Homo sapiens: one gene and its partner. The protein of the gene in region 1 purifies or fractionates together with the protein of each later gene. This does not show direct contact. Each region holds a gene or a part of one and is shown in the gene's direction. Other genes may lie near its edges. The genes, in order: EBLN2 and SCGN.

Region 1 (3,999 bases):
GAAATTGACTTGTCTTGAGTGAAAAATGAAGGAAGCCCTGTGAGAACCAAGATTGGACTAATGAGTTCTAATTTTCAGTTGATGGTTGGTCCGGAAACACTCCCCTGTTCATTTAAGGATCTGGTTCAAATCCACTTTATTTTACCCTGGGAACAGGAATCAAAAACCATTACATAGTGATTTACAGTAGTTTTTGTGGCCATACTGGATTAATATATTTTGTTGATCCTCTGTACACTCAATTGAATAATATCCCCAAAGGCCAGGAAACTGAGATGGCTCATCAGTACTTACTTTTCAGCTCCAGGAGTTGTAATAATTACATTTTGGAGATTTTCAGATAAAGTAGCAATATGTTACAGTAGTCATACCAGGTGCCCTGCCTTTAAATCAGGGTTGCAGTGTTTCATAGTTGTGTGACCTTGGGCCAGTTAGTTTTCTCCTCTGTAAAATGTGGTTAATAATAGGGCTGGGAGGGGGATTAAATGCAAAACACTTACTGTGACTCATACTAAACTTTCAGTGAACACTGAATATTAGTAAAGTTATTTTTACTGGGAAGATCATAAATATATTACAAAAAAGGTTTGAGTCTCTTTCTGTGGGATATATGATGCAACACAACAAGCCGTGGATTGGGTGTTGCTTTGTAAGGAAAATCAATTACATATGTCTTAAGTACTTCAATCTCTCAACATCTTTGTTGATTCCATCTGAGCTTAGTTACTCTACTACGTATAGTGTATGATGTTACGGGTCTAGAATAACTAGATTAGGGTAAAAAATAAGTATAGGAAAAAAAAAATTAGTGGCTGAGTAGGATATTCTCTTTTGGTCCTTTGTTATTGTTTTAGTTTTTGCTGTTTCACCAGTTTTCATTTTTAACCATTTTCCTTTACTAGCAAAATTAGAATCAATGGGAATTTAACCCACCAGAGTGATTTTAGAAACAAAAATGATGAAACTTTATGTTGTAGTACTTTTCTTCATACTAAATCACTGATTTTTGTTATTGCAGAATGTGATGGTTGTTAGCTGTGTTTATCCTTCTTCAGAGTAAGTATATTTTTTCTATTTCTAGTATATTATTTACTATATTTAATCATTTTATTGCTTCTAATATATTATTCTTAAAATAGACTGAATTTATTTAATATGTAATTAAGTGTGATAACATACTTGTGAACCTACCATTCAGTCCCCAAAGTAGAATATTACTAATAACATTATCTATATGTTTTTTCCATTAAAGAGATTTGGATTAAAGAGATTGGTGATTTACTGTAATTTTAATATTGTTGGATTTACATACTGTGGTGGCACTCATTGCCCTGAGATGCCATTCTAGATGCCTTTCCAGGGTGTCTCTAGGGCATAATTCCCATGTTTGGAATAACTACTTGATGGCTTTTCTCTTTATGATGGAAAATATTTCCAGTTGTCAAGATTTAGATATAGCAAAGTAAGAATTAAATTTGGATACAATTTCTCAACCTTGGAACTATGGACATTTTGTACCAGATAATTCTGTTGTGAGTGGGTGTCCTGGGGATTATAAGAGGTTTAGCACTGTCCTTGACCTCTACCCACTTATGCCAGTAGTGTTCCCCTCTCCAAATATCTTTAGACATTGCCAAATGTCTCTTGGAGATGTGAAAGGCAGGGAGGGGAGGTTGTCCCCTGCTGAGAACCATTGGTTTAAGGTTAATCTGGCTCTGCTTTCATAGACTACTCTGTTACCCAGGCTGGAGTGCGGTGATGAGTGATCATAGCTCACTGCAGCCTTAAACTCTAGTGATCCTCCCGCCTTGGCCTTCCAAAGTGCTGAGATTACAGATGTGAACCACCACACCCAGCCCAGTCAATTTGTTTTTAGAATGTTCCCAAGAATATAGTTATGTTGCTAAATAAGATACTAAAATAATCCCATACTATATTTCTTGACAGAAAAACTATTAAAATGTATACATGATAAAAATTTCTTTTATGAAGCAAAATATGTTTTGTTTTGCTCATGAACGTGAGGTATTTTGGAAAAATGGTAAAGAAGTGCAGAGTCAAGTCATAGCGACTAATAATGGGTTATTTTCTTAAATTGTATGCTTATGTTAATTCTCACAGTCTTTTTGTTTGGGTCTGTGACAGATCTTACAAAAGATCTTTTAGACCTATGATTCTTAACAAAATTAAAGAATTAAGTCGGAACCAATTTTCCACAATGTCTCATCTAAGAAAGGACTCACAGCCCAGCAGCCCAGGAGATGACGCAATGGACAGGAGTGGGCTCCCTGACCTTCAAGGAAGATTTGAGCTATCTGGGAAAAACAGACAGTATCCACTGGATGCATTGGAACCCCAACCCAGCATTGGGGATATTAAGGACATTAAAAAAGCAGCCAAGTCTATGCTAGACCCAGCACATAAATCTCATTTCCACCCTGTGACCCCAAGTTTAGTATTCTTGTGTTTCATATTTGATGGGTTACACCAGGCATTACTGAGTGTTGGTGTGAGCAAGAGGTCTAATACTGTGGTTGGGAATGAGAACGAGGAAAGGGGTACTCCTTATGCTAGCAGATTCAAAGATATGCCTAACTTTATTGCCCTTGAGAAGTCATCAGTTCTCCGCCACTGCTGTGACCTTTTGATAGGCATTGCGGCTGGATCAAGTGATAAGATTTGCACCAGCAGTCTCCAAGTTCAGAGACGATTCAAGGCAATGATGGCATCTATTGGAAGACTTTCACATGGTGAGAGTGCTGATCTGCTAATCAGCTGCAATGCAGAATCAGCCATAGGTTGGATCAGCTCAAGACCATGGGTTGGAGAATTAATGTTCACACTTCTATTTGGAGACTTTGAATCCCCTCTACACAAGCTACGCAAGTCAAGTTAGTTGCCAAGAAAGCACAGATGACAACCTATTAATGCTGTGAGAATGTTTCTAGATCAGTGCATGGATGGCTCCATTGCTCTACGGGCCATTGTGTCTGAGATCCCAGTCTTTGAGGAGAAAAAAAACAATGGTTAAAAAGGCATTGGGGAAATATTTTGAGTTTGGGGGTGTACTTTGCCACCCCATTATTGGGGAGCTGTCACCACGAATGTTCCCAAACTTAGCAACAGCGGCAAACTACTGGGCCAAGATGAGCAACCCCACATTTTTGGGATTTAAAGCTCCTGATGTTATACCAGGATCAACCATCACACTCCCTTTGCTTCAAATGGCATCTACCCCGTAAGATCTTGAGGGGGGAGTGTTGGGTGGAATCATAGATCCATGCACTCCTAACATGAACTAATTCTCATTATTTAAAAAAAAAAAAAAAAAAAAAAGTCCAGGTGTGGTGGCTTAACGCCTGTAATCCCAGCACTTTGGGAGGCCGAGGTGGGCCGATCACTTGAGGTCATGAGTTTGAGGCTAGCCTGGCCAACATGGCAAAACCCCGTCTCTACTAAAAATAAAAAAAATAGCTGCGCATGGCATCACACGTCTGTCATCCCAGCTACTTGGGAGGCTGAGGCATAAGAATTGCTTGAACCTGGGAAGTGGAGGTTGCAGTGAGCTGAGATTGCACCACTGCACTCCATTCCACCTTGGGTGACAGAGCCAGACTCCATCTAAAAAAAAATTAAGTCATCCACAAGTGTATTTTCTTTTCTTATAGGAAAAACAATTCCAATAGTTTAAATCGAATGAATGGTGTTATGTTTCCTGGAAATTCACCAAGCTATACTGAGAGGTGAGATTCTAGATTTTTAATACCTACAGAGTTTGCATTGTCCTGATTTTGAGTAGCAGGCTTAGTGTACTTTTTAAAAATTGGGCATTTTATGGACACCATAGGATGAACTACATAGAATTAGTTAATTTGGTAAGGCATGGGCCTGAAAACAAAGTTGCAGCAAATACTTCTGTGATGTATTCACATCAACATACCTTAAGAGGGATGACTTTTTATAAAAATAGGAAATGATGTTCATTTATCTTATTATAGG
Region 2 (4,264 bases), on another chromosome or scaffold:
ATTAACTAAAGTCCGTGTTTATTAAAATTTTCTTAATTTTTACCTAATGGCCTTTTTCTGTTCCGGCATCACACCCAGGATAAAACATTACATTTCTTTGTCATTTTTCATTAGGTTCCTCTTGGCTATGACAATCTCTTAGACTTTACTTGTTTTCTCTAACAGAGTCATCCCTCATCAGCTACAACACCATAGCAGATATAATTCATTGTGCATTACTATGTATGGTTCTGATCCTCACAGCAACCCTCCAAAACAGATGTTTTAATCCTCATTTTATAGATAAGAAAATTGAGGCTTAGGGAGATGAGAACTAATGGTGCAGTTCACAAAGCTGGTAAATAATGGAACTCAGATCCTGACCCAGGACTATCTGACCTTGAGTGTCATGTTCTTTTCACTACTCTGGTTTAGATGACTTATACATGCATGCTTTTTATAAATAAATCTGAATGCTAAAACCAGAGTCAGGGTGCCATAAAGAAAAGTTACATCTGGTTCAACTTTCTTATCTAATATCCAAGCACTTTCTATAGATTATCCAACGAAAATTTCTAAATATATAGTCAAAAGGTATCAGTGTAGTTTGTACACGTTTCCACAAAGCCTTGCCCAATTTTGAACAGTCCTGATTGTTAGAAAGCTCTGTGTTCCTCCAACTGATTTTTATCCTTTGGTCTTAATGTGGCTCTTAGGAGCCAAACACAATCATCTAAGCCTTCTACCTAAGTACCCTGCAGGCAGACACATCTCCCCCAGACTCTCTTTTCCTGGCAGAGTACGGCTTAGTTTATATTTTCCTCAGCATCCTAATGATGCTACTTTAAATCACAGTGACTTGCAGTATCCCTGTTTAGTTGCAAGTCCTTATAGTGCATTTTGGTACAGCAATGTGTATGTCCTATACAATCAGGACTCAATAATTGCTGTTGACTTCTTCCTTAAAGGGAACCACTTACCACCATCACCATCCCTTCTCGCCTCCCCTCTCCACACACTACATTTCTAAATCCTCAAGTCCAAAGGACCCTAACACTGACACTTCTTGCAACCCTTTAAATGAGGCAGCTCTCCCTAGAAAACCCCTTGAGACACAAGTTTGGAAAGTGAGTCAAACGTAAGAGGGATGTCTTCTCCGAGTCTGAGAAGCAAGTTAAAGGGCAAAAGCAGTGAGCCGTGGACGCCTGGAGACAGTTTCTTTCTTCCTGAATTCCCCAAAGCGCAGAGACAGACAGGATCTGCCAGGACAGCGCGCAGGGCGGGGCGGGGACAGGCGCGCCAGGAGCGGGGCGGGCTTCCAGCCGCTGGTTTTGCTGAGGGCTGAGGGACGGCTCAGCGACGCCACGGCCAGCAGCGCTCGCGTCCTCCCCAGCAACAGTTACTCAAAGCTAATCAGATAGCGAAAGAAGCAGGAGAGCAAGTCAAGAAATACGGTGAAGGAGTCCTTCCCAAAGTTGTCTAGGTCCTTCCGCGCCGGTGCCTGGTCTTCGTCGTCAACACCATGGACAGCTCCCGGGAACCGACTCTGGGGCGCTTGGACGCCGCTGGCTTCTGGCAGGTCTGGCAGCGCTTTGATGCGGATGGTGAGTAGAACAAGCCACTTGCACACTCAGGTGTAGACGTGGCTCCAAGCTCAGCCCGCTGAAAGGACCTGGAGTTTCCCCTTTACTGTAGGAAAAGTTATCGACCTGGGTTGTTAATGCAGTGTACCTAATACAGTATCATTAACAGACGTTTGGCATACTGGTGATACACATCTATATACCTTGTTAAAATTCTGGGTGGTGAATTTCCACTTTCCCCTTTCCAATCTCTCTTTGTGTGCGAGCGCGCCATATATATGGTAGACATACATATATATTGTATATACAATGACTAATATCATTGTATATGTTCAAGGCTTGTGGGCTGAGACTCAGCTATTTGAAGTCATCCTTCCCTAAATGGGCTCACTTTTACGCAGTGACTTTGCTGTACACCCCTCACTCTCTCAAAATGAGAATAAATTTTATCAGCTTTCAAAACGACTCCTCCACCAAAAAACTACTTGAAAATAAAATGGAACTACTTAATATTTGTTTTTATTAATAAAGAAATAAAATATCTAAAAGGTGTGTTTTAACTCTGCAAACTGGGATTCAATACTTACACCTGTTAAGTTTCTCCAAGCTTCAGAAATTTTGGGGTTAAATTTTATTGGAAAGTTCACGTTTATTCATTGATTAAAATTCATGTACTTAATAGCCTTCCTTTTCCAAGCACTAATATAAACCCTAGCATAAAGCACGTATTCTGGAACAGTGTTTACTGTTCAAACCCATGTATTCTAGAGGTAGGTGTTGGCACTTTGTTATTGGAATAACAAAAAATAGTGTTGAGGGAAGCTTTATGAATTGTGAGATTAAAAACATATTTAGATAAATACTGTCATGTGTTTTTTATATGTTAGTATTATTTATGTTTATTTTCTCACATTTAGAAAAAGGTTACATAGAAGAGAAGGAACTCGATGCTTTCTTTCTCCACATGTTGATGAAACTGGGTACTGATGTAAGTACTTGCACACTAAGCCTTAATTTATGCCTCTTAGTAAGATACGCACATCCAAGTCTTATATTGATTGGTACCTATTAATTCCAACTCACCTCCTTTCTTCCTTGCATGTATGTAATTTCTCCCCCTCTCCTAGCAACATAGAGGGATTTAGGCAGTTTTTATAAAAGGTGCAACTGTAGCATTAGACATGCTGGTTACTGACTTTCAGTGTAACATCTGTCATCCACTCAGAGATCCTAACTGTAGACTCAGTTAACTTGGTCTTGAACGTCTCCTTGGTTATGTCTCTGCTAATTGATTTATACCTGGGGGTAAAGTAGCCCACTTTGTTCAAAAAGCTGGAAAAGATGTTAAGCACATTAAGATTTTGGGTGTTTAATATGTATGATACTCCTCTGATAGCAAACCACAAACCATTTAAAATCATTTATCCATTATTCATTTTATTAGAAGAGGTTACAGATTTTTCAGGGAATGACAAACCAGAAAACAACCAGCATACTCAGAGCCCAGATACAAATGGAAGCCAATCTATCTAGTGTCCATCTGATGGTAAATATGTCCTTGGGAGATGTAAATGAACTCTTGAAAGTCTCTCTATCAAAGCAGAGAAAAATTTTACACAGAAACACATGAGCGGAGGACAGCCTGGGGATGGGCTCGATCTGATGAAAGCTCCAGTAGGGCATTCATAGTAGAAGGAGACGCTCTAGGGACAATTGAATTTAAATGAATGATGGAGATAGTTTGTCCTTATCATTCAGCTGTTTATCTGAAGAATAGAAGTGCATCACATTCTCATGTGAGAGCTCAGTGAGGGAACAAGGAGCTCTTCACCACTGTTGAGAACATGGGGAGGGTATGTGGGGGGCAGGGGAAGCTGGTTCAGAAACAAAAGGGCTGGCTTCCGCCTTCTTCAGCCACACAGATCTCTTGGTCCCCCTCTACTTCTGTCTGCCTCTCATATTCTGTCTGTCTCTCTTTTTTATGTCTATCTCTGTCATTTTTCTGCTCACTTCTGTTTCTTATCTCTGTGTTTCATGGCTCTCATCTCCTACTGTTTCTTGCCTTTCTCTCTGACCTCTCTGTTGCCCATCTTTCTTGTCTCTGTTTCTCATTTGTTTCTCCATCTCTCTGTCTCTGTGTTTTCCCATTCTTTTTCCAGTCTCTCTGCTTCTCAAAGCTCTTTTGGTCTTTCCTCTCCCCATGTCTTTTATTTCTCCTTTCTTCTTTCTTTCCCATCTCTCTTTTTGACCTTCATTTCTTTTCTCCACATTTTCTCCTTCACCCTTTTCTTTGTCTCTTATCTCCCTTTTTCTGTACCTTTTATTGCTCTTTGTCTGCCTGCACTCCACCCCTTACCCTGTGCAGCCTGTGAAGTGAAAGGATCAGCAGACGAGAAGGATAGAGACACAAGTCCCTTCTTTCCTCTGGTCAGACCACTTGCGCACACTCCTCTTTATCCTTCATTCTTGTACCTACACAAGCTACAGGTAGAGCTGAGGAAGCCTCCCCCAAGTGAGGCTTCTGCTTCAATCTAGCCAGCCACTTTCACGTGCTAGCAGCCCATGGTGAAGCCCACCAGCCTTGCCCACAGGGCTTCTACTTATATCTGTAAATGTAAGGTTCATCGTGTTCCAGAAACCCATCTTATCTATCATGGACATGGGTATTTGAGGAAAGCAAAAAGACAAAGTTAAAACCATTC

The links.
Region 2: the proteins of EBLN2 (region 1) and SCGN purify together in Homo sapiens (affinity purification with mass spectrometry; one large-scale study listed by BioGRID and IntAct). This does not show direct contact.

The regions. Positions count from the first base shown.
Region 1 is NC_000003.12:73,060,005-73,064,003, forward strand, and holds EBLN2 (endogenous Bornavirus-like nucleoprotein 2), read left to right. Parts: upstream 1-1,654; 5' UTR 1,655-2,077; coding exon 2,078-2,896; 3' UTR 2,897-3,333; downstream 3,334-3,999. Other genes in the region: PPP4R2 (serine/threonine-protein phosphatase 4 regulatory subunit 2), read left to right, coding at 1,019-1,056, 3,669-3,743, 3,999-3,999.
Region 2 is NC_000006.12:25,650,903-25,655,166, forward strand, and holds the start of SCGN (secretagogin), read left to right. Parts: upstream 1-1,312; 5' UTR 1,313-1,501; coding exon 1,502-1,583; intron 1,584-2,479; coding exon 2,480-2,550; intron 2,551-4,264.